3 separate regions of the Homo sapiens genome follow, and regions 2 and 3 are each linked to region 1. The links come from fine-mapping of genetic effects on gene expression. A gene starts in region 1. Each other region holds a variant in brackets. All regions are shown on one strand. Distances are from middle to middle.

Region 1 (8,032 bases):
CAGAGCTCTTATCTGCTTGCTCAAGGGGCATGGTCTTGAATAATTTCTGGGGAAAAGGTTTCCTGTGGAATGACCCTCTTCACGTTAGAAACCTAGGAAATCAAATTATGTCCCCCCATTTCCAGTCCTGGAACAGGATATCCAGAACCTCTTCAGTGGCCACCACTAAAAAGTGTCCTTCCCATCCTGGAAAGCTCTGAGTCACATAAATTGCTCTGTCAAATGCCTGGCCCAGAGCTCTTTGGAAGAGCTTTCCCCATTCCAAAGCCCTGAAACCGAGGGTTGACCCTGGCCGGGACTCTGTGTAAAGTGCAAGATCTCAGCAGCAGAGGAGGGAAAAGAGCGGAGGCCCAGGTCTCTCACTGGTGCCGCCAGGAAGTAAACACTCCATGGTGTAATTTGTGTGAAGAGAAAATTATCTCTAATTGGAGGGCTGGAATAAAAATATCTCCCATCTGTAAACAAAGTAGTTGGAGCATCCTGGAGGCACAGAACTGGAGCACCAGAGTGCTGCAGGTACCCTGTGGGCCACCCCACCCAGATCGTCTCAGCCCCAACCCACAAGCAGCGGGCGCTCCGGGACCTCACCGGAAGCCAGTGAAGGCGGCATACCTGTCCCTGAGGCTCATCAGTGTCCTCAGCCCCGAGGCACAGTCCAGAAAACAGCTTCTCACCTTCTCCCCAGGCCAGGGCAAATATTCAACAAGTCAGGTGAAGAGGGTAAAAAAATGCTGGTCTGTTTTATGTCATCACAGGGATCCCTCCTGGAAGGTGACTGGGGACTGCTGTTTACTGGCTATCTCAGACATCTTTTCTCAGACACCTTTTCTTTGGTGTCTGCAGGGGCACCTGCTTCTCCACATCCTCAAAGAAAGAATTGAGGCAGACACCCTGACACAGGCAGAGTGGGTGATATTCTTCATGGGGCCTGAAGTGAGAAATTCCCAGGAACATCAGCCCTAGGGAAGCGATTCTGTGTCAAGGGCTTTCCTTGTGTTATTGTCCACTGTTGGTTGTCCTGTTGTGTTTTAAGGTGCACCAGTAAAGAGCCCTTGGCTGATAGAGATACCACCAGGATACTTTAACTCCTGCCCTAGCATAAGGGTGTGACTCTCTTTAACTCCTGGCATGTATGATATTTCTACTGAAAGACACACACACACACACACACACACACACACACACGAACACCTAGCCTTCTTTTGGTGAAATGCAAAAGGTTTATTAAATAGCTGCTTATGAAAGCCTCTCTCTAGGAAGCCACTTGACCAAAATCTGCCATTGGTATATAAACTTTTTCAGCAAAGGAGAGAAATGTGCAAATAGATCGAACTGCGGAAGAACTTTTCTTCTTTTGCAGACCACAAGCGGCATATGTTATTGGAGAAGATGGAAGTTTTGTCTGCTACTGTTTCCTTAGAGGGAGGTGGGAGAAGGTTTTCCTATTTAAATAAAATTAAAGAAATACTTTGAAGGAAAAAGCAGGGGATAAGAGTTGAGATAAAATGTGGGATAACATAGTTGAAAATATTGTGAGGAAGATGGGACTTAAAGAGAGGAGAGATGGAGAAACAGAAACATACCCAGGTCTTTGAAAAGCCCTGAAGAAGAATGCTTTAAAGAAGGACTCTGAGGTCAGAGACTTCCATTAGTCAAAGGATCCCACTTCTCTCATGCGATGCGGGTTGACTTCAGATGATTGTTCAGGGCTAGAATAGCATAGTAAAGGAACAGAAGTCATGGATCACATTCCTTTTTTTCTTTTTTTTGAGACATGAGGCATCGGTCAATACATGTAAGGTGTACATTGGTTCTGTCTAGAAAGGTGGGACAACTATAAGTGGGTGGGGTTGGGATTTCAGGTCATAGGCAGATTCAAAGATTATTCTGATAGAAAGGAAGGTCTGGTCTGGCTCTGGGGCAGTGGCTCGCTTCTGTAATCCCAGCACATTGGGAAGTTGAGGCGGGCAAATTACTTGAGCCCAGAAGTTCAAGATCAGCTTGGGCAACATGGTGAGATCCCATCTCTACCAAAAAAAAAAGTAGAAAAATTAGCCAGCTATGGTGGCGCACACCTGTGGTCCCAGCTGCTCAGGAGGCTGAGGTGGGAGGATTGCTTGAGCCTGGAGGTTGAGGCTCAAGCATGAGCCACGATTGTGTGCCACTGCACTCCAGCCTGAGTGACAGGGTAAGACCCTGTCAAACAAACAAACAAACAAAAACAAAAAACAAAACAAAAAAAAAGCAAGCAAGAAAGGAACGTCTGTGTTAGAATAACGGTTGTGGAGACCAAGTTTTTATCATGCAGATGAAGCCTCCAGGTAACAGGCTTCAGAGAGAGAGAGAGAGTCTGTTGTATCAGTCTTTTTTGTTTGTTTGTTTTTAGACGGAGTCTCATTGTGTTGCCCAGGTGGAGTGCAGTGGCACGATCTCAGCTCACTGCAACCTCCGCCTTCTGGGTTCCAGCGATTCTCCTGCCTCAGTCTCCCAAGTAGTTGGAACTACAGGCATGCATCATGATGCCTGGTTAATTTTTTGTATTTTTAGTAGAGACAGGGTTTCACCATGTTGGCCAGGCTGGTCTCAAACTCCTGAACTCAGGTGATTCGCCCACCTTGGCCTCCTAAAGGGCCTGGATTACAGGCCTGAACCACCGCACCTGGCCCTATCAGTCTTAAGATCTGTTTTAATGTTGATGCTGGTCAGTTGGCCTGAATTCCAAAAGGGTGGAGGGTATAATAAGGCATATCCAACTCCCCGATCATGGCTTAAACTAGTTTTTCAGGTTAACTTTGCAGTGCCTTTGGCTGAGAGGAGGGGTCATTTCAGATTGTTGAGGGGCTTAGCTTTTTTTTTTTTTTGAGACAGAGTCTCACTCTGTCACCCAGGCTGAAGTGCAGTGGCGCAATCTTGGCTCACTGCAACTTCCACCTCCCGGGTTCAAGTGATTCTCCTGCCTCAGCCTCCCGAGTAGCTGGGATTACAGGCGCCTGCCACCATGCCTGGCAAATTTTTGTATTTTTAGTAGAGACAGGGTTTCACCATGTTGGTCAGGCTGGTCTCAAACTCCTGACCTCATGGTCTTCCCTCCTTGGTCTGCCAAAGTGCTGAGATTATAGGCGTGAGCCACCACGCCTGGCCAGGGCTTAGCATTTTATTGTTGGTTTACATTCAGTTCCCCGAGCTCTTTTAAGAAGTGCATGTCTCCCTAGTAAGCCACACCTTAGAAATAAGCATATTCAGATGAGTAATGCTGTGATGGAGGCAGAGCCTCCTCAGCCCTGCTCACGGAATGCTTCCAGGACTTTGCTGCTGGCCTTATTGAGCTCTGATTCCCTTCTGCACAGGGTCAGAGCTCTCCAGGGAACAATGAAACCCTAAGGAAGAGCAGACCACTTCACAGCCACGTGTGTCCTACCCCACTCTGCTGCATCCCTAGTTAGACTTCCATTCCAGGAACTGTCTCAGCTGTTGGTAATGACATGCCGACTCCATCTGCAGAGGAAAATCAATGTCTTACAATGAAGCACCTGCCATCCACTCTCCTAGGAACCTCTGCCCCTTATAGAATATTCATGCAGCCCTTTTTTGTAATCTCGGTCTGAGTTTCAAAAGATTCCCTAGCAGGAAGACCATTTAACAGATAGACCATTTTACAACGCAAACACTGAAAATTCCGCAGGAGAAAAGAGGCACTGGTTTTTGAAAACCGTGCTCTGTCCACAGTCAGACACCATCTCACATTTCCAAGTAACCCAAACAGTTCCTTCAGTTAGGTAAATATGCCTGGCCATGTGACCAGGAGCTAAAGGGAATAATAGGGAAAACAGAGGGCAGAAAAAAATGTCAGTGGGCATAAGACGAATTTTCTTCTTTTTAATTTCTCGATTTTGTGCTTGATAAAGGGAAAGAGGCCACCATTATAAAACAACTTTTACACACTTTTACTTGTGATTTAGTGCATGGTGACCTGGAACATAAAGAAGATTTATGAAAGGAAAGACAGAATCATAGTAGGTAATTGAGTTATTTTTTAATTTTTATTCTGTCTTTATAAGATTTTTGAGAAGGTAATCAATTAACATAAAGATCTGAGCAGTTATAAAGATTTACAAAGAAGATTATACAGTGATGGAAACTGAAGCATATTCTTGGCAACAATCTCAATCTATTTCACGTTTCCCGGCTTTTACATATATAAATTTGGTATACATAATATGTAAATATACTTCTATTTTGCATGAAAACTAAAAATACTAAAAAAGTAGCATGAGTATATGAAAAAGTTAAACATTAAAAATATTAGTTGGAAACTGGCTTATTTTACTAACAATTATATTCAGAATTCTGTTGCTAGACTGCTGTTTCTGGGAACATTGGAGGTGTACTTTCTATACTTGCTAAAATACAAGCTTTTCAAGTATTTTCCATAGTATTAAGTGAGACTTTAAATACTCTTGCTTTTTTAGATCTAATTTCTGCTTTAATTTATCCTTCTCTTCATTTTTCCTGTTTGTCCTCATCTTACCTGTTCTTCCCTGGTTTTACTATCTCCCAGTATTCAGAAATCAGAGCAAATAATTAGTCTGCTTTTCTGCAGAATAAACTATTGGGTATGCCATCATGCTTTTGATCTACCACATAAACAAATTATTTTAGCAAGACATCACTTTTATATGCTGTATAATGTATGTATTGCTTATGTTTTAAGCAGATTTCAGCTCTTTTCCTTCCATCAATTTGGAATTGGGGGCCCAAAAGATGTGAAGGCGATAATGCTTCCAAGATAACTGGGCTGCATCCTTATTTGTAAAATAAGAAATACTTTATTTCCCAAATTTTAAAGGAGTGTTCCTTCTCCGACCTGTTGTGATGGATTTATTCTATAGCTATGGAAATATACCCTGCTTCACTCTTGTACATACTTCTTTACTCTCCTCCCGCCAAGTTCATTGAAAGAGAACCCATGTGCCGGTCCAGAGCATCGCTGCATCCGTAAGCAGCTAGACCTCAGCTTCCTCTGTCACCATGGTGCCGGCTCGGCTGGGCCCGGCGGTCGCCATGGTAACTGGGGCGGGTCGCAGGGTCCTGGCAGGCTGGGCGCATGCGCGCGGGGACTACAAGCCGCGCCGCGCTGCCGCTGGCCCCTCAGCAACCCTCGACATGGCGCTGAGGCGGCCACCGCGACTCCGGCTCTGCGCTCGGCTGCCTGACTTCTTCCTGCTGCTGCTTTTCAGGGGTGAGTTTGCGCGTTTCCGCTGTTGGGAGACTAGGGTCTGGGGGCGACGGAAGCAGAGCGGGCCGAAGCTGCTGGAGCCGGTCCGGGCGAGGATAGCGGTCCTGGCTCCGAGGGCTCCCGGGGTCCCGGGCCGGAGGGGCGGCGCGCGCCCGCGTCCCCGCAGCCAGGGCTGGGACTCGGGCCTGGCTAGGGCGGGGGCCCTGGGACGCCCGGCAGTTGGACCGGGGCGGGGAGCTAATTTGGGATGGGGGGCCCGTCCCAGGCAGTGAGTCGGTCCCGGACAGCCGTCGGACCCCGGGGGCGGGCTCTTCTCGGGCGGGGTCCTGTGCTGGGCGGTGGGCTCATCCCCCGGGTGGGCTCCTCCCAGGCGGGGTCCTGTGCTGGGCGGTGGGCTCATCCCCCGGGTGGGCTCCTCCCAGGCGGGGTCCTGTGCTGGGCGGTGGGCTCGTCCCCGGGGTGGACCCCTCCCGGGCGGTGGGCACGGCCCTCTGGAGGGAGCGCGGCAGCTGCGGCGTGGGCGCTGGAACTTGCTGGAAGACCCTGCGCAGCAGTGCTGTGCTCTCCAGAAGGGACGGTGAGCGGGGGACGTAGCTGAGGACCGGCGAGGCAGAGCTCCGAGGCCTGGCGGGCTGCTTGGTCACAGCCCTCTGGGGATCTGCAGTTCATTTGACTCGACACAAAGGAACTGCTTTTCTTTTACAGAAATAAAATGGATATCAATCCAGTACCTTTTTTGTCTCTGGCCTGGCCGAGGAGACCACGCAGACTCTTATCCGGAAATAGCATTCGGGGCATTTGATCAAGACACACTAATAAACTTGATAGTTTTGTGCATTTTCTTTCCCTCTGTTTGGAATTCTCATTAGATCCACATTTTCCTGGACAGTTGTACAGAGGACTAAAATAGCTTTCCTTTAGTGAGCTTGTACTGTCTACTAGGCACTTTGGAGCCATTATCTCGTTTACTCCTTTCAGCAGCTCTGTGAGATAGGTTTCATTAATCCATTTTCAGAGTCAAGTCTAGTCTGCTTTCCAAGGCTGCATTCTAAGTAGTGAAGCCTCAACTTCATATTTACCTAAAGCAGGACACCACACTCTTCCCCTGGCAGCCATCCGCAGGTAACCAGACCAGGACCTTTTTCGGTTCTTAGATTATTTTATTGTTTGAATTGCCACTGTCATCCCATGATGTTTTCCAGAATATACAAATTAAAACACGGAGGGACTGTTTAGGAGTGAAGGTGGACAGATTTTGGAAAACAAAGCATTCCTGTGTTTGGTGCTTTATGCTAATGGGATGCTCGTGATGGGCTGTGACAAAAGATGAGTTTTAGCGTATAGATTATGTACGCTAAGGCAAAGTCTGTATACTTTGCCTGAAAGTGATTCCCAAAACCAAATGCTGTTGGGAGATAAGTGATCAAAGGCTAGCCAGGGGACAAGGGTGTCAGGAATGTCCAGCACCCGCTGTGTTGGTCACACTGACACTGTCCTATTCACAGCCTGGAACAACTCTCTATTGTTGAAAAGATCTGTTCACGTGAAAGTTTGCAGTTTTTGTTGCAGAAGCATTTGGCAGTTTAGCTCAGGAATGAATTTCAACTTGGTAGTTTGTTAATAAAACTAGAAAATGCAAAGAGCTTCACTTACCCTTAACCTCTGATTTCCTTCCCCTAAGGGACTAGTTTTGTGGCTTTTTTGCTGGTAGGGGCTGGGATTCACATGCAGAGCGTAGGAGGAAGAATCAAATTTTGCAAACTAGTTCTAATGACAAATAATCGAGGTAGTAGGATGTATGAATCCACTTTGAAGGCGTGTAGCTATCTTTTTTTTAGTAGGGGCTCTTTTTCCATTATTTGGTTTATGCTTTAAGCTACCCTAAAACTGTTCTTCCAGAAGTCATGACTACTGTGTCCTTTTTATTTTTTATGATTATTCTCAATTGCTATTACTATTTATTTTCATCTTAAAAATTTTGGTTCTTGATATAACAGCAAACATTTCTTTTGTGGTTACCCTTTGCCAGGCTCTGTTACAAGAATTTAATGTTTGCTAATTTATTTAATCTTGATAACTCTAAGAAGTCGTTACTATTGTTGTGCCCTTTTGTGGATGAGGGAACAGAAGTATGGAGAGATTCAGACCCTTGTCGGGAGTGTTATCCTGTGCGTTTTAAATGGGAAATCCTTCATTATTTGTGTTAATCCAATTTTTAGTTATTTGTATTATTCCATTTGACGGTGGAGTTCTTTTAATGGATCAGTTTAAACAGATTATCAAGTTTTCAACACTATGTGGTTTGTATATAAAATATTCTTTTGTTGACTCATGACAGGTGCAGTTCAGCTTTACAAATGTTATGCCACATGGCTTTTTTGAATGATTGTGTACTCATTAGTGTTAGGTTTCCAAATCTTTGATATTCTAGAGAGAAGTGCCTTATTTAGAATTAAAACAGCAACAGTTTTCATTCTTCAGATAAGACAACTTGTGTGCTGAAGCATATCAAAATCTGAAAATCAAAATTTCTGGGAAATTTTTGAAAAAATGTTTAATTCTTTTATTTGCATCTGTTTGGACTCCAGTAACGTTTTTTAGAATGGCATATTCTTTTATGTTCTAATTCTTAATTATCTGGCAGATATAATCATTGTCAGACTTGTGTGTATGTTTTAAAAAAAACAAAGAACACCTGTCTTGAAAGCATGCAGTACTTTATATCAGCTGCTCATTCCCACATGACTTGTTGATGGGCATTTGTTCTTCAGTGCTTCAGGCTAAGGAGACTGAATG
Region 2 (8,032 bases), 39 kb after region 1:
GAAAGGGTATCAGTGATTGAAGATCAAATGAATGAAATGAAGCGAGAAGAGAAGTTTAGAGAAAAAAGTAAAAAGAAACAAACACAACCTCCAAGAAATATGGGACTATGTGAAAAGACCAAATCTATGTCTGATTGGTGTACCTGAAAGTGATGGGGAGAATGGAACCAAGTTGGAAAACACTCTGCAGGATATTATCCAGGAGAACTTCCCCAACCTAGCAAGGCAGGCCAACATTCAAATTCAGGAAATACAGACAATGCCACAAAGATACTCCTCGAGAAGAGCAACTCCAAGACACATAATTGCCAGATTCACCAAAGTTGAAATGAAGGAAAAAATGTTAAGGGCAGCCAGAGAGAAAGGTCAGGTTATCCACAAAGTGAAGCCCATCAGACTAACAGTGGATTTCTCGGCAGAAACTCCGCAAACCAGAAGAGAGTGGGGGCCAATATTCAACATTCTTAAAGAAAAGAATTTTCAACCCAGAATTTCATATCCAGCCAAACTAAGCTTCATAAGTGAAGGAGAAATAAAATCCTTTAGAGACAAGCAAATGCTGAGAGATTTTGTCACCACCAGGCCTGCCCTACAAGAGCTCCTGAAGGAAGCACTAAACATGGAAAGGAACAACCAGTACCAGCCACTGCAAAAACATGCCAAATTGTAAAGACCATCGATGCTAGGAAGAAACTGCATCAACTAATGAGTAAAATAACCAGCTAACATCATAATGACAGGATCAAATTCACACATAACAATATTAACCTTAAATGTAAATGGGCTAAATGCTCCAATTAAAAGACACAGTCTGGCAAATTGGATAAAGAGTCAAGACCCATCAGTGTGCTGTATTCAGGAGACCCATATCATGTGCGGAGACACACATAGGCTTAAAATAAAGGGATGGAGAAAGATCTACCAAGCAAGTGGAAAACAAAAAAAAGGCAGGGGTTGCAATCCTAGTCTCTGATAAAACAGACTTTAAACCAACAAAGATGAAAAGAGACAAGGCCATTACATAATGGTAAAGGGATCAATTCAACAAGAATAGCTAACTATCCTAAATATATATGCACTCAATACAGGAGCACCCAGATTCATAAAGCAAGTCCTTAGGGACCTACAAAGAGACTTAGACTCCCACACAATAATAATGGGAGACTTTAACACCCCACTGTCAACATTAGACAGATCAACGAGACAAAGTTAACAAGGATATCCAGGAATTGAACTCAGCTCTGCACCAAGCGGACATAATAGACATCTACAGAACTCTCCACCCCAAATCAACAGAATATACATTCTTCTCAGCATCACATCGCACTTATTCCAAAATTGACCACATACTTGGAAGTAAAGCACTCCTCAGCAAATGTAAAATAACAGAAATTATAACAAACTTGTCTCAGACCACAGTGCAATCAAACTAGAACTCAGGATTAAGAAACTCACTCAAAACCACTTGACTACATGGAAACTGAACAACCTGCTCCTGAATGACTACTGGGTACATAACAAAATGAAGGCAGAAATAAAGATGTTATTTGAAACCAATGAGAACAAAGACACAACATACCAGAATCTCTGGGACACATTTAAAGTAGTGTGTAGAGGGAAATTTATAGCACTAAATGCCCACAAGAGAAAGCAGGAAAGATCTAAAATTGACGCCCTAACATCACAATTAAAAGAACTAGAGAAGCAAGAGAAAACAAATTCAAAAGCTAGCAGAAGGCAAGAAATAACTAAGATCAGAGCAGAATGGAAGGAAATAGAGATACAAAAAACCCTTCAAAAAAATCAATGAATCCAGGAGCTGGGTTTTTGAAAAGATCAACAAAATTGATAGACCGCTAGCAAGACTAATAAGAAAAGAGAGAAGAATCAAATAGATGCAATAAAAAATGATAAAGGAGATATCGCCACCGATCCTACAGAAATACAAACTACCATCAGAGAATACTATAAACACCTCTATGCAAATAAACTAGAAAATCTAGAAGAAATGGATAAATTCCTGGACACATACACCCTCCCAAGACTAAACTAGGAAGAAGTTGAATCCCTGAATAGACCAATAACAGGCTCTGAAATTGAGGCAATAATTAATAGCCTACCAACCAAAAAAAAGCCCAGGGCCAGATGGATTCACAGCCGAATTCTACCAGAGGTACAAGCAGGAGCTGGTACCATTCCTTCTGAAACTATTCCAATCAATAGAAAAAGAGGGAATCCTCCCTAACTCATTTTATGAGGCCAGGATCATCGTGATACCAAAGCCTGGCAGAGACACAAAAAAAGAGAATTTTAGACCAATATCCCTGATCAACATCGATGCAAAAATCCTCAATAAAATACTGGCAAACCAAATCCAGCAGCACATCAAAAAGCTTATCCACCATAATCAAGTGGGCTTCATCCCTGGGATGTAAGGCTGGTTCAACATACGCAAATCAATAAACATCATCCGGCATATAAACAGAACCAAAGACAAAAACCACATGATTATCTCAATAGATGCAGAAAAGGCCTTTGACAAAATTCAACAGCCCTTCATGCTAAAAACTCTCAATAAATTAGGTATTGATGGGACGTATCTCAAAATAATAAGAGTTATTTATGACAAACCCACAGCCAATATCATACCGAATGGGCAAAATCTGGAAGCATTCCCTTTGAAAACTGGCACAAGATGGATGCCCTCTCTCACCACTCCTATTCAACATAGTGTTGGAAGTTCTGGCCAGGGCAATCAGGCAGGAGAAAGAAATAAAGGGTATTCAATTAGGAAAAGAGGAAGTCAAATTGTCCCTGTTTGTAGATGACATGATTGTATATTTAGAAAACCCCATCATCTCAGCCCAAAATCTCCTTAAGCTAATAAGCAACTTCAGCAAAATCTCAGGATACAAAATCAATGTCCAGACATCACAAGCATTCTTATATACCAATAATAGACAAACAGCCAAATCATGAGTGAACTCCCATTCGCAATTGCTTCAAAGAGAATAAAATACCTAGGAATCCAACTTACAAGGGATGTGAAGGACCTCTTCAAGGAGAACTAGAAACCACTGCTCAACGAAATAAAAGAGGACACAAACAAATGGAAGAACATTCCATGCTCATGGGTAGGAAGAATCAATATCGTGAAAATGGCCATACCGCCGAAGGTAATTTATAGATTCAATGCCATCCCCATCAAGCTACCAATGACTTTCTTCACAGAATTGGAAAAAACTACTTTAAAGTTCCTATGGAACCAAAAAAGAGCCCACATTGCCAAGTCAATAATAAGCCAAAAGAACAAAGCTGGAGGCATCATGCTACCTGACTTCAAACTATACTACAAGGCTACAGTAACCAAAACAGCATGGTACTGGTACCAAAACAGATA[T/C]AGATCAATGGAACAGAACAGAGCCCTCAGAAATAATACCACACATCTACAACCATCTGATCTTTGACAAACCTGACAAAAACAAGAAATGGGGAAAGGATTCCCTATTTAATAAATGGTGCTGGGAAAACTGGCTAGCCATATGTAGAAAGCTGAAACTGGATCCCTTCCTTACACCTTATACAAAAATTAATTCAAGATGGATTAAAGACTTAAATGTTAGACCTAAAACCATAAAAACCCTAGAAGAAAACCTAGGCAATACCATTCAGGACATAGGCATGGGCAAGGACTTCATGTCTAAAACACCAAAAGCAATGGCAACAAAAGCCAAATTTGACAGATGGGATCTAATTAAAGAGCTTCTGCACAGCAAAAGAAACTACCATCAGAGTGAACAGGCAACCTACAGAATGGGAGAAAATTTTTGCAATCAACTCATCTGACAAAGGGCTAATATCTAGAATCTACAAAGAACTCAAATTTACAAGAAAAAAACCTCATCAACAAATGGGCAAAGAATATGAACAGACACTTCTCAAAAGAAAACATTTATGCAGCCAAAAGACACATGAAGAAATGCTCATCATCACTGGCCATCAGATAAATGCACATCAAAACCACAATGAGATACCATCTCACACCAGTTAGAATTGCGATCATTAAAAAGTCAGGAAACAACAGGTGCTGGAGAGGATGTGGAGAAACAGGAACACTTTTACACTGTTGGTGGGACTGTAAACTAGTTCAACCGTTGTGGAAGACAGTGTGGCGATTCCTCAGGGATCTAGAACTAGAAATACCTTTTGACCCAGCCATTCCATTACTGGGTATATACCCAAAGGATTATAAATCATACTGCTATAAAGACACATGCACACGTATGTGTATTGTGGCACTATTCACAATAGCAAAGACCTGGAACCAACCCAAATGTCCATCAATGATAGACTGGATTAAGAAAATGTGGCACATATACACCATGGAATACTATGCAGCCATAAAAAATGATGAGTTCATGTCCTTTGTCGGGATATGGATGAAGCTGGAAACCATCATTCTCAGCAAACTATCGCAAGGACAAAAAACCAAACACCGCATGTTGTCACTCATAGGTGGGAATTGAACAATGAGAACACTTGGACACAGGAAGGGGAACATCACACACCAGGACCTGTTGTGGGGTTGGGAGAGGGGGGAGGGATAGCATTAGGAGATATACCTAATGTAAATGACGAGTTAATGGGTGCAGCACACCAACATGGCACATGTATACATGTGTAACAAACCTGCACGTTGTACAGATGTACCCTAGAACATAAAGTATAAAAAATATATATAAATAGTCAAAAAAAAGTGTTTTGAAGTGAATGAAAATAAAAATGTGACATCAGAATTAAGACTAGGCCACTAAAGCAGTAACTAGGGTGAAATCTACAGCATGAAAGACCTATATTCGAAAAGAAGAAAGGTCTGAAATCAGTGAGTTCATCTACTTTATGAAATTAGAAAAAGAGCCTGGGCAACATAGCAAGTCCCCATCTCTACAAAAAATTTAAAAATGAGCCAGGCATGGTGGTAGATGCCTGTAGTCCCAGCTACTTGGGACATCGGGGCAGGAGAATTGCTTGGTCCCAGGAAATTGAGGCTACAGTGAGCTAATATTACGCCACGGCACTCTGGCTAAGCAACAGAGAAAGACCTTGTCTCTAAAATAAATAAATAAACAGAAAAATAGGAAAAAAAATCAGAAAAAGAACACATATTCAAAGTAAGCAGAATAAAGAAGATAATAAAGGTAAAAGCAGAAATCATGAGACTTCAGAAAACAAAAACAACAGAAAAAAACCAGTAAGTCCAAAAGCTGTTTCTTTGAAAATATCAGTAAAATTAAGAAACCTCTACTAGACTAATTGGGAACAATAGAGAAAAGAAACAAGTTAACAATGCCAGGAATAAGATAGGTGACTATAAACACATTAAAAGAATGATAAGAAAATATTATGAACAACTTTATGCTTAAACATTTCACAACTTGGATCAAATAAATTTCTTGAAAGACACAACTACCAAAGCTCACTCAAGAAGAAATAAGTGGCCTGAATAGCCTAACATCTACTTTTTAAAAATAATTTATAGTTAAAAAAAAAACTGCCCACAAAGAAAACTCCAGGCCCAGATCACTGGTGAATTCTACCAAACATTTAAGAAAAAAAAGACACCAATTCTAACGAAACTCTTCCAACAAAGTGAAAAGAAAGAATTATTTCCCAAAGTATTCTATGAGGCCAGAATTACCCTGATATCAAAACCAGAGGCATTACAAGAAATCTACAGGCCAATTTCCCTCGTGAACATAGATGCAAAAATTTCAAACAAAATCTTAGCAAGTCAATCATAAAAAAGACCAAGTTCTGGCTGTTTGTGTGTATAGGAAGAAAACAAAAACAAAAACCAACCGAGGTTTATCCCAGGAATGCAAGGTTGGTTTAACATATGAAAATCAGTTAATGTAATTCATTATAATAACGCAATATCACCATATTACATTCTCAACAGATGCAGAAAAAGCACTTGACAAAATTCAACATCCATTTATGATAAAAAAAACTTTTGGAATAGGAAGGAACTTCCTGAGACAGACAACAGCAAAACAACAGAGGTAAATCAATAAACCAAAAGCTGGTTCAATTAAGCCAAAAATTAGGAATAGAGGGAGTTTCCCAATCTGATAAACAATATCCATGAAAAAGTTATAGGTAATATTATATTATTGGTAGAAACCAGACAAAAATACCTGCTCTCACCAGCTCTTTTAACTTTAATACAGAGTCTCATTCTATCTCCCGGGCTGGAGTACAGTGGCACAATCTCAGCTCACTGCAACCTCCACCTCCCAGGTTCAAGCAATTCTCGTGCCTTAGCCTCCCGTGTAGCTGGGACTACAGGCACGAGCCACCACACCACCCCCGGCTAATTTTTGTATTTTTAGAAGAGAAGGAGTTTTACCACGTTGGCCAGGCTGGTCTCAAACTCCTGGCCTCATGTGATCCACCCACCTCAACCTCCCAAAGTGCTGGGATTACAGGCGTGAGCCACCGTGCCCGGCCTGCTCTCACCACTTCTATTCAACACTGTATTGGAGGTTCTAGCAGTGCAACCAGGGATGAAAAAAAGAACTTAAAAAAAATTAGGAAGAAGTAAAGCTGTCTTCATATCTTTATTTGCAGAGGACATTAACATTTATGTCAGGGATCAGCAAACTACAATCCAAAGGCCAAATATAACTGTTGCCTGGTTTTTTGTTATTTGCTTTTGCAAATAAAATTTTATTGGAACACAGCCACATCCATCCATTTACTTATCAACTATGGCTGCTGTAAACCCAAAAGATCTGAGACAGGTCTCAATCAATTGAGAACTTTATTTTGCCAAGGTTAAGGACATGCCCGGAAGAATAAAACATGGAATCACATAAATGGTCAGTGGTCTGTGCCTTTTTTCAAAAATGATTTTGAGGGCTGCAATATTTAAAGGGAAAAAGTGGGCTGGAGGGGAAAGAGGGAGAATGTGGTAATCCACATGTTGCAAGAGAAAAGGAGCAGGTAGGGAAATAGTCAATTATGTATTCATATTGTGCCCAGTAAATAAATACTTTACATAAGATAAGGTGAACATGGAGTAGCTACCTGGGGAGATACTGAACCTTTTCTCTATAGCTGTCTGCTTAGAAACAAATGGAAAGGCAGCTTCTTGTAGGACACAGCTTTCAGCTTAGTTTTTTCCTTTTGGCAGAGTGAAGTGGGGTCTGAGTTTTTATTTTCCCTTCACATTGCTTTCACTCTAAAATGGCAGAGTTGAGTAACTGTAGCAGAGATCTTATGAATGGAAAATAAATACAAGATGCTTAACCTAATTTGCATCATTTAATTTGCACCTTAATGCAAATTAAAACCACAGTAAGATACCACTGTGCATCTATCAGAATGACAAAAACTAAAAAGATTGACTATACCTAGTGTTGGTGAGGGTATCAAAAACAAGATTTCCCATCCATTGCAGGTGGGAATGTAAAATGGTAAGACCAATTTGGAAAAGTGTGATTAAAAATGAAAAGATAGACCTATTATTTGATTCAGTTATTATACTCCCACATACTTATGTAAGAGAATGAAATCATATGTTTATACAAAGATTTGTACACAAATATTTATTTGTAGCATCTAAAAACTGGAAATAACCCAAATGCCCATCAATAGTAAATAAACATCTGGTGGTATTTCCATAAATGGAATATGACTATTCAGCAATAAAAACTAATAAATTATTGATGCATGCTGCCACATAAATGAATCTCAAAATAATTATGCTGAGTGAAAAAGGCCAGACAAGAAGAGTACATATGGTATGATTCCATTTATTTAAAATTCTAGGAAATCCAAACTAGTGACAAAATCGCTAAGTGGTTGCCTGGGGACAGGGCAGATGGGGTGAATAAGGAAGGAAGGGCAGAAGGGAAGGATTACAGGAGCATTAGGAAACTTTTGAGGGTGGTGGGTAGGTCGGCTAGAAACCTGGGAGTTGCTGGATATGTTCGCTATTGTGGTTGTGGTGGTGGTGGTTTCAAAGCTT
Region 3 (8,032 bases), 95 kb after region 1:
CTTTACCATTCATCCACTGATGGACATTTGTTTCCAAATTTTGCTATTGTGAACAGTGCTGCAATAAACATGGGAGTGCAGGTATGTCTTCGACATCCTGATTTCCTTTCTTTTGACTATACAGTCAGCAGCGAGGCTGCTGCCTCATATGGTACCTCTACTTTTAGTTTTTTGGAACCTCTATACTGTTCTCCATAGTGGCTGTTCTACTTTCCATCCCTACCAACAGTGTACAAGCCATTCCCTTTCTCCATTTTAACACTTTATTGGAATAGAATCTTCACGTACTATGAGCAAGTCCATAAGTAATGTACTTTGAAGCCATATCAACCCTGGGTAAGTTGAATTTCCTTTTCAGAAACAGAATACTATGAGAAAGCTGCCACTTGTAGATGCTGTGGCATGACAGAAGAGAAAAAGGAGTATGCTACTTTGTGCTCATTGGTCTTTCCTACAAGAGATCTGCCTGCATTCCTCAGGACGGTGAGCAACAGCTACTCCTAGAAATGGCCGTGTGCCGGTCTGCTCTAAAGAGGGAGTGCTGGGGGAAGATGCGGACACACTGACACACCCTGGCAGACCTAGGATCTATAGTCACCAGCTACTGCTGCTGCCAGCTCGCTTCCTGCACCACGTCCTCATGGAAGGGAGGTCTGGAGCACAGTAAATCCATCACAGACAGAAAGGCACGAGGGAGTGGCCAACAAGCAGCACTCTCGAGGCCTTCGGGCTGACTAACCTCTGATGACGGAGATCTTGAGAGGTGCCAGACAAACGACAGACTGGTAGCAGACAGCAGACTGGACTGTCTGGTCACAGTGCAGTGGGCCCCACACCTACCTGTGCCACAGGTGCCACCTCAGCACCTCCAGCCGTCCCGGCCACATCTGCATGTTTTGCTAGCTCCTGCTCCTGGACCAGCTGTTCCTGGTACTTCTTCATGTCATACTCAAGCTCTGATGCCAGCTGTTTGTCAACTGCAAAGAAGTCCTTGAGCTCATCTCGGTAATCCTGCATCACCTCCTGAAACAGAGCCAGGAGCATCCTTTCATGTTTTCTTGAATAAAAACGTAAAGCCCTAAACCCCCACGACACACCTTCGCCTGTGTAACAAACCTGCACATCCTGCACGTGTACCCCTGAACGCAAAATAAAAGTTAAGAAAGAAAAAAGCCCCCCAAGTCATGTTGCTTGATAAATCATAGGAACAATAGGACTGACATTACTGAAAGCAGATGATTTCCATTCCAGTAACTAACAGGTACAATGGTATATTTGGAGCAAACACCACTGGCCACACAAGCAGAAAAATATGTGAGTAACTAACAGTTCTCTCTCTTAGGAAGCATCCTGGCTATGTGGCAGTTAATGGGCAATCTCTCCCAGGTTCCCAATGGGAGAAAGACATGCTCAGACACAGCCTCTGGAGCAAGTCCCAGGATGCATGGATCTAAAAGCTGCTCATCTGTCTACATTAGCCTCCCCATTGGCTCTCAGGGGATTCCAACTAAGGCTCAAATCCCATCTTTGTGTCTTCTTCTGAAGATTTTACAGAAAACCTTTTCTCATACCTAGGGAAAAACATTCTTAGGTCTTAAAGAGGGGTGCCAGGGGCAAGACCACTTTGCTAAGAGAAAGAATCATTCCACCTAACAGTAATAGGGAGAAAAAGACACTGCAGTTCCAACTGGGAGGGAAGTCTCAACAAAGAGAAGGAATCCATGCACTTTTCCAGCTGCCACTAGGAGTGGGTTCCACAGGCCAATGAAGAGACTCCCTCAAGCTACTGACAACAAGCAACGTGTGGCCATCCTGTGTGTGTGCTCACAAGCAGGAGGAAGGCTTATTTTTCTTAAGTGTTTAAGTAGTCTATGTAGGATCAAAGCTCTGTTTTTGTTTTTTTTTTTCCTTTCTAGGGTCTAAAGTCAGGCAATAAATACAAGAATATTTGGAAGTTTTTATTTTTATCATACAATGAGACTATCTTTCCTACCTTGGCTTCCTAGTATAAAAAGCTATTTGAAAATTTATATTCAATGTAATTTTTGTTGAGGCCTTTATTGGAAAAAAAATTGTAGCATTTTTTTGAGGAAGAAAAACACATAATGTGAACAGAGCTATAACTGCTGAATTAAAGAAAAACTATGTTGCATTTATTTCTTAGTAAAAGATTTTGCAAGAAAGGTCTGAGGCCCCACTTAGGTCCGCCCTGCAAGTCAACACATCCTGGGTTTGCTCCGACTGAGCTCCTCATGGTCCCCTTGCTTGACAAAGAATTCAGCCTGGTGATGGCAGCTCCGAAGGCAGCTCCTGCAGGGCAGTTATTTCCTGACCTTGTGAATCTGAGTCAGTGCAAAAGGTAAGCACCCTGAAATCAAACCCGAAGACTCACTTTCACCTTACCCCCAAGCAGCATGAACGAAGATGACTGTGTTCTTGACCCCAGCTGGGAAAGTTTTCCAGATGGACTTGAACTCCATTAAGGGAAGACGTGCTTGGCACAGTGGGCCGGCTCTTCACGGCCCTGGCTGCACATCCAAGGGAAAGAGCGGCTTTGGTGGAACCCACAGCCAACCCCTAGCTCCACAGCAGTTACCAAGGTAATGTTGGGTTTGCAGAATTTGGGGTTCTAATCATTCACGGATTGCCTGCACTGTCATAACTGGCAGAAGATCCTAAGTAATGAACTGGTAGGACAACAACCACAAAAGCACAGGCTCCACCCTTACCCTGAGATAGTGCATGAGTTCCCGCAAAGCTGGGATCTTATTTTTCTCCAGCACAGTCTTCAGGGAGATGATAATTGGAATAATATTTTCTATGAAATTCCTCTTCTGAACCTGGTAACACAAACAAAGACATGTTTTAGATGTATGAACTTCTGAAAGACAGGCCTCTCCTTGATCTAGTTCTTTGAGTAGAGCCACCCTACCACACTATGTAAGTTTATTTTTGCTTTTCATTATGATACTGGATGTAGAGGACCTCTGCTTTTCTCTGGGAGACTTTGTAAGCATTACCTCAAAACACTCTGAAGGCTTTGTAAGATAGGGTGGGGACAAATACTACTCATATATTCTAAATGGGGAAAAAGAATTAGAAACATGTTGAGTAGCTTTTGACAAAAGCCCCAAATCTCCACAGAAGACCCTGAGGGACCTTGGCTCTTGCTCCACCTTCAGTCCTCAATTCAACACCCTCCCCTTGGAACAGAAGTCAGCTCGTTCTGGCTACCCAGAGGGACACTTCGTATTCCTGCTGGTGAAGGGACAATGGTCTAAAAATGGCTAAGCATGAAGACAGCCAGCTCTGTCTCTCTCTCTGTGTACACATCTACAAAATACTATGAATTTATATATATAGTACCTGATTTGACCAAGTCTTCACACTTTACCTTGAATGATCACTAACCACAAATATTCTCCAGTGAATCTCTTTAAATTAAAAAAAAAGCACTATAGTAGCCCACATATGCAAGATTTATCCTCCTGAAGCTGAAACTACTCTTTTCCTTCTCATTTAAAGTCACTAGTGTATGTTTCTTCCTTGTAAACTACTCATTTCTAAAAAGTCTTATCAGAGTTCCTGAAACAGAAGGACAACAAGTAGAGAAATAAGCAATTTAATAAACCCAGATGTGAGCAGATGTTATGTTCAGGAATAGTCTTAAGAAGTGGCTTCCATGCATTCACTTGACAAGTATTATCAAGCACCTTCTCTGTCCAGGCAAAGAGCTAACCCTCTGAGGATGCAAAATGAAGCTAAGCATCCCTGCCCTCCAGCCACTTCTAGAAAGTGTGTGTCTCAAGGGAAGAGGTGTTAAGTGGCAGGGTGTTAGGGAATTTAGGTATGGAGATGGGATGCCTAAGGAGTGCATGGCCATCTGATGGATGATCCTGAGGATGTGTGGAGAAGGGAGGATGGGTGGGTGAGGGCGCTGCAGACTTTAGACCCAGAGGCAAGAGCACACGAGTAGGGGGCAGCTCGCAACTGAGGTGCAGATGGCAATTTGAAGTGGAGAGGTTAGAGGTGAGGATGGAGGGAGGTATGGGAAAGGTGGAAGGCACACCAGAAGTTCTTGTTTACCTTGAAAAAGAAGAATCAGGGTTTATTCAGAAGATGACAGGAAGCCACCAGCATAGTTTTTAAAGATTTCACTAGTGAAGTATAACATATGTAATAAATTTACCCATTTTAAACAAACACTTCCATGAGCTTTGACAAAAGTCTATATGGAATAACCAGCACTACAGACCACTCACCATCTATCACCCAAAAGCTTCCTGCCACCCCTCACAGTCAACCTGCCTTTAGTCTGTTTCAGATATAATAAAATGATCAAATTTGTACTTAAGAAAGACTGCTGGGCTGGGTGTGGTGGCTCATGCCTGTAATCCCAGCACTTTGGAAGGCCGAGGCGGGCAGATCACGAGATCAGGAGATTGAGACCATCCTGGCAAACACTGTGAAACCCCATCTCTACTAAAAATACAAAAAAACTAGCCGGCCGTGGTGGCTGGTGCCTGTAGTCCCAGCTACTAGGGAGGCTGAGGCAGGAGAATGGCATGAACCCAGGGGGGCAGAGCTTGCACTGAGCAGAGATCGTACCACTGCACTCCAGCCTGGGCAACAGTGTGATACTGTGTCTCAAAAAAAAAAAAAAAAAAAAAGTTAGCCAGGCACAGTGGCAGGGGCCTGTAGTCCCAGCTACTCGGGAGGCTGAGGCAGGAGAATGGCGTGAACCTGGGAGGCGGAGCTTGCAGTGAGCTGAGATCGCGCCACTGCACTCCAGCCTGGGCGACGCAGTGAGATTCTGTCT[C/CAA]AAAAAAAAAAAAAAAAAAAAAGAAAAAGAAAGAAAGACTGCTCTGGCAGCAAGGTGGTACATGGCCTGTGACAGAAAGAAACCAGAAACAGAAAGGGTGGTAAGGAAACCATGGAAATGGGATAAGCTTAAATAAGGTCAGAACTAGAGAGATAGATTGGTAAGAGAAAACAGGCAGGATCTTGTGGCAAGATATGATCAGAGTCTATATCCTTGGAGTCAAAAGCCTCCAGAGGCCAGGTGGGAAATACACATTGGCAATCCAGGCTAGGAGGAAAACACAGGCCTGCAGAGGCCTGTGGCAGCCAAGCTCTGCCCCAGTCATTCAGATCCAAATTCTACACTTCCTGCCAACAAAAGCCTCAGCCTGACACACCAGACTCCAGTCTGCAAGAGCACCATAAACTGTGGGAGAAAGAGGAGATGAAGAGCAGAAAGAAGAGATGACTGAGGGAGTTTTGACAGAGTAAGTCAGAGACACCCGGAGCACGTCCTGGCAGCAGGGGGACCTGAGCTCAGGCTCATGAGAAATGCTGGAGTGGGAAACAGGTTTGAGAATTGTCACCATCTGGCAAGAGTTAAAGCCATCAGTAAGAAAGAAGTCAGCACCAGAGCATGGCACCAGGATTCCAGGGAGAACACGGAAGCCAGTAGATGGTGAGAAGAGTGGGACACTCACTTGTGAAATGAGCTTAGGGGAGCTGCACACTCACTTGTGACATGAGCTTAGGGGAGCTGCACACTCACTTGTGACATGAGCTTGAGGGAGCCGCATAATCACTTGTGACATGAGCTTGGGGGAGCTGCACACTCACTTGTAAAATAAGCTTAGGGGAGCTGTACACTCACTTGCGACATGAGTTTAGGGAGCTTCACACTCACTTGTGACATGAGCTTGGGGGAGCTGCACACTCGTGAAATGAACTTAGGGGAACTTCACACTCATGAAATGACCTTAGGGGAGCTGAACACTCACGTGTGACATGAGCTTGAGGGAGCTACATACTCACTTGTGACATGAGCTTAGGGGGAGCTGCACACTCACTTGTGAGATGAGCTTAGGGGGAGGGGCACACTCACTTGTGACATAAGCTTAGGGGAGTGGCATGCTCACTTGTGACACAAACTTAGGGAAGCTGCACACCCACTTGTGAGATGAGCTTAGAGGAGCTGCACACACTTAGATTAGCTGAGGGGGAGCGGCACACTCACTTGTGAAATGAGCTTGCGGGAGCTGCACACTCACTTGTGAGATGAGCTTAGGGGAGCAGCACACTCACTTGTGAGATGAGCTGAGGAGGAGCTGCACACTTGTGAGATGAGCTTGGGGGAGCGGCACACTTGTGAGATGAGCTTAGGGGAGCAGCACGCTCACTTGTGAGATAAGCTGAGGGGGAGCTGCACACTCGCTTGTGAGATGAACTTAGGGAAGCTGCACACTCACTTGTGACATGAGCTTAAGTGGAGGGGCACACTCATGAGCTTGGGAAGGGCGCACTCGTGAGATAAGCTTCGGGGAAGGGGCACACTTCTGAGATGAGCTTAGGGGAAGAAGCACACTCGTGAGATGAGCTTAGGGGAGTGGCACACTCATGAGATGAGCTTGGGGGAGTGGCACACTTGTGAGATGAGCTTACGGGAGCAGCACACTCACTTGTGAGATGAGCTTAGGGGAGCAGCACACTCACTTGTGAGATGAGCTTGGGGGAGGGGCACACTAGTGAGATGAGCTTGGGGGAGGCGCACACTCGTGAGATGAGCTTAGGGGAGGCCCACACTCGTGAGATGAGCTCAGGGGAGCAGCATACTCATTTGTGAGATGAGCTTGGGGGAGGCGCACACTCGTGAGATGAGCTTAGGGGAGCTGCACACTCACTTGTGAGATGAGCTTGGGGGAGGTACACACTCGTGAGAGGAGCTTAGGGGAGATGCACACTCACTTGTGAGATGAGCTTGGGGGAGGCGCACACTCGTGAGATGAGCTTAGGGGAGCTGCACACTCACTAGTGAGATGAGCTTGGGGGAGGGGCACACTCACTAGTGAGATGAGCTTGGGGGAGCAGCACACTCACTTGTGAGATGAGCTTGGGGGAGGGGCACACTCAGTGAGATGAGCTTAGGGAGAGCAGCACACTCACTTGTGAGATGAGCTTGGGGGAGGCGCACACTCACTAGTGAGATGAGCTTGGGGGAGCAGCACACTCACTTGTGAGATGAGCTTGGGGGAGGGGCACACTCACTAGTGAGATGAGCTTGGGGGAGGGGCACACTCACTAGTGAGATGAGCTTGGGGGAGCAGCACACTCACTTGTGAGATGAGCTTGGGGGAGGGGCACAGTGAGATGAGCTTAGGGAGAGCAGCACACTCACTTGTGAGATGAGCTTGGGGGAGGCGCACACTCGTGAGATGAGCTTAGGGGAGCTGCACACTCACTAGTGAGATGAGCTTGGAGAGGCACACTCACTAGTGAGATGAGCTTGGGGGAGCAGCACACTCACTTGTGAGATGAGCTTGGGGGAGGGGCACACTCACTAGTGAGATGAGCTTGGGGGAGGGGCACACTCACTAGTGAGATGAGCTTGGGGGAGCAGCACACTCACTTGTGAGATGAGCTTGGGGGAGGGGCACAGTGAGATGAGCTTAGGGAGAGCAGCACACTCACTTGTGAGATGAGCTTGGGGGAGGCGCACACTCGTGAGATGAGCTTAGGGGAGCTGCACACTCACTAGTGAGATGAGCTTGGAGAGGCACACTCACTAGTGAGATGAGCTTGGGGGAGCAGCACACTCACTTGTGAGATGAGCTTGGGGGAGGGGCACACTGAGTGAGATGAGCTTAGGGAGAGCAGCACACTCACTTGTGAGATGAGCTTGGGGGAGGCGCACACTCGTGAGATGAGCTTGGGGGAGGCGCACACTCGTGAGAGGAGCTTAGGGGAGCTGCACACTCACTTGTGAGATGAGCTTGGGGGAGGCGCACACTCATGAGAGGAGCTTAGGGGAGGCGCACACTCACTTGTGAGATGAGCTTGGGGGAGGCGCACACTCGTGAGATGAGCTTAGGGGAGCTGCACACTCACTAGTGAGATGAGCTTAGGGGAGCTGCACACTCACTAGTGAGATGAGCTTAGGGGAGCTGCACACTCACTAGTGAGATGAGCTTGGGGGAGCTGCACACTCACTAGTGAGATGAGCTTGGGGGAGCTGCACACT

Direction of the effects. Positions count from the first base shown, and alleles are read on the strand shown. Sizes are in standard deviations (SD) of each study's normalised expression.
For the expression in subcutaneous fat of the gene that starts at base 5,152 in region 1, T is the high allele of the variant in region 2 and C is the other (small effect, 0.24 SD a copy in GTEx).
With allele CAA in place of C in region 3, the expression in Th17 cells of the gene that starts at base 5,152 in region 1 is lower (large effect, 0.92 SD a copy in Schmiedel 2018).

What was found. PIP is the estimated chance that this variant, and not a neighbour inherited with it, causes the effect. A credible set is the group of variants that fine-mapping cannot tell apart.
Region 2: its variant is the best candidate, but not a certain one, in a credible set for the expression of JAM3 in subcutaneous fat (GTEx, PIP 0.59).
Region 3: its variant is the best candidate, but not a certain one, in a credible set for the expression of JAM3 in Th17 cells (Schmiedel 2018, PIP 0.81).

Annotation. Positions count from the first base shown.
Region 1 is chr11:134,063,921-134,071,952 of GRCh38, forward strand. It overlaps JAM3 (junctional adhesion molecule 3), which reads left to right and starts at 5,152. Exons shown (of 9, transcript NM_032801.5): 1 at 5,152-5,239. The coding sequence starts at 5,164. RefSeq lists a silencer at 4,957-5,146.
Region 2 is chr11:134,102,752-134,110,783 of GRCh38, forward strand. The region is part of intron 1 of JAM3 (junctional adhesion molecule 3); the gene reads left to right. Among named protein-coding and RNA genes, the nearest start is that of JAM3, 38 kb to the left of the region's middle. The variant T/C (reference allele first, on the strand shown) is at 3,401.
Region 3 is chr11:134,159,052-134,167,083 of GRCh38, forward strand. It overlaps NCAPD3 (non-SMC condensin II complex subunit D3), which reads right to left. Exons shown (of 35, transcript NM_015261.3): 28 at 2,730-2,840; 29 at 841-1,023. Among named protein-coding and RNA genes, the nearest start is that of SNORD153, 12 kb to the left of the region's middle. The variant C/CAA (reference allele first, on the strand shown) is at 4,820.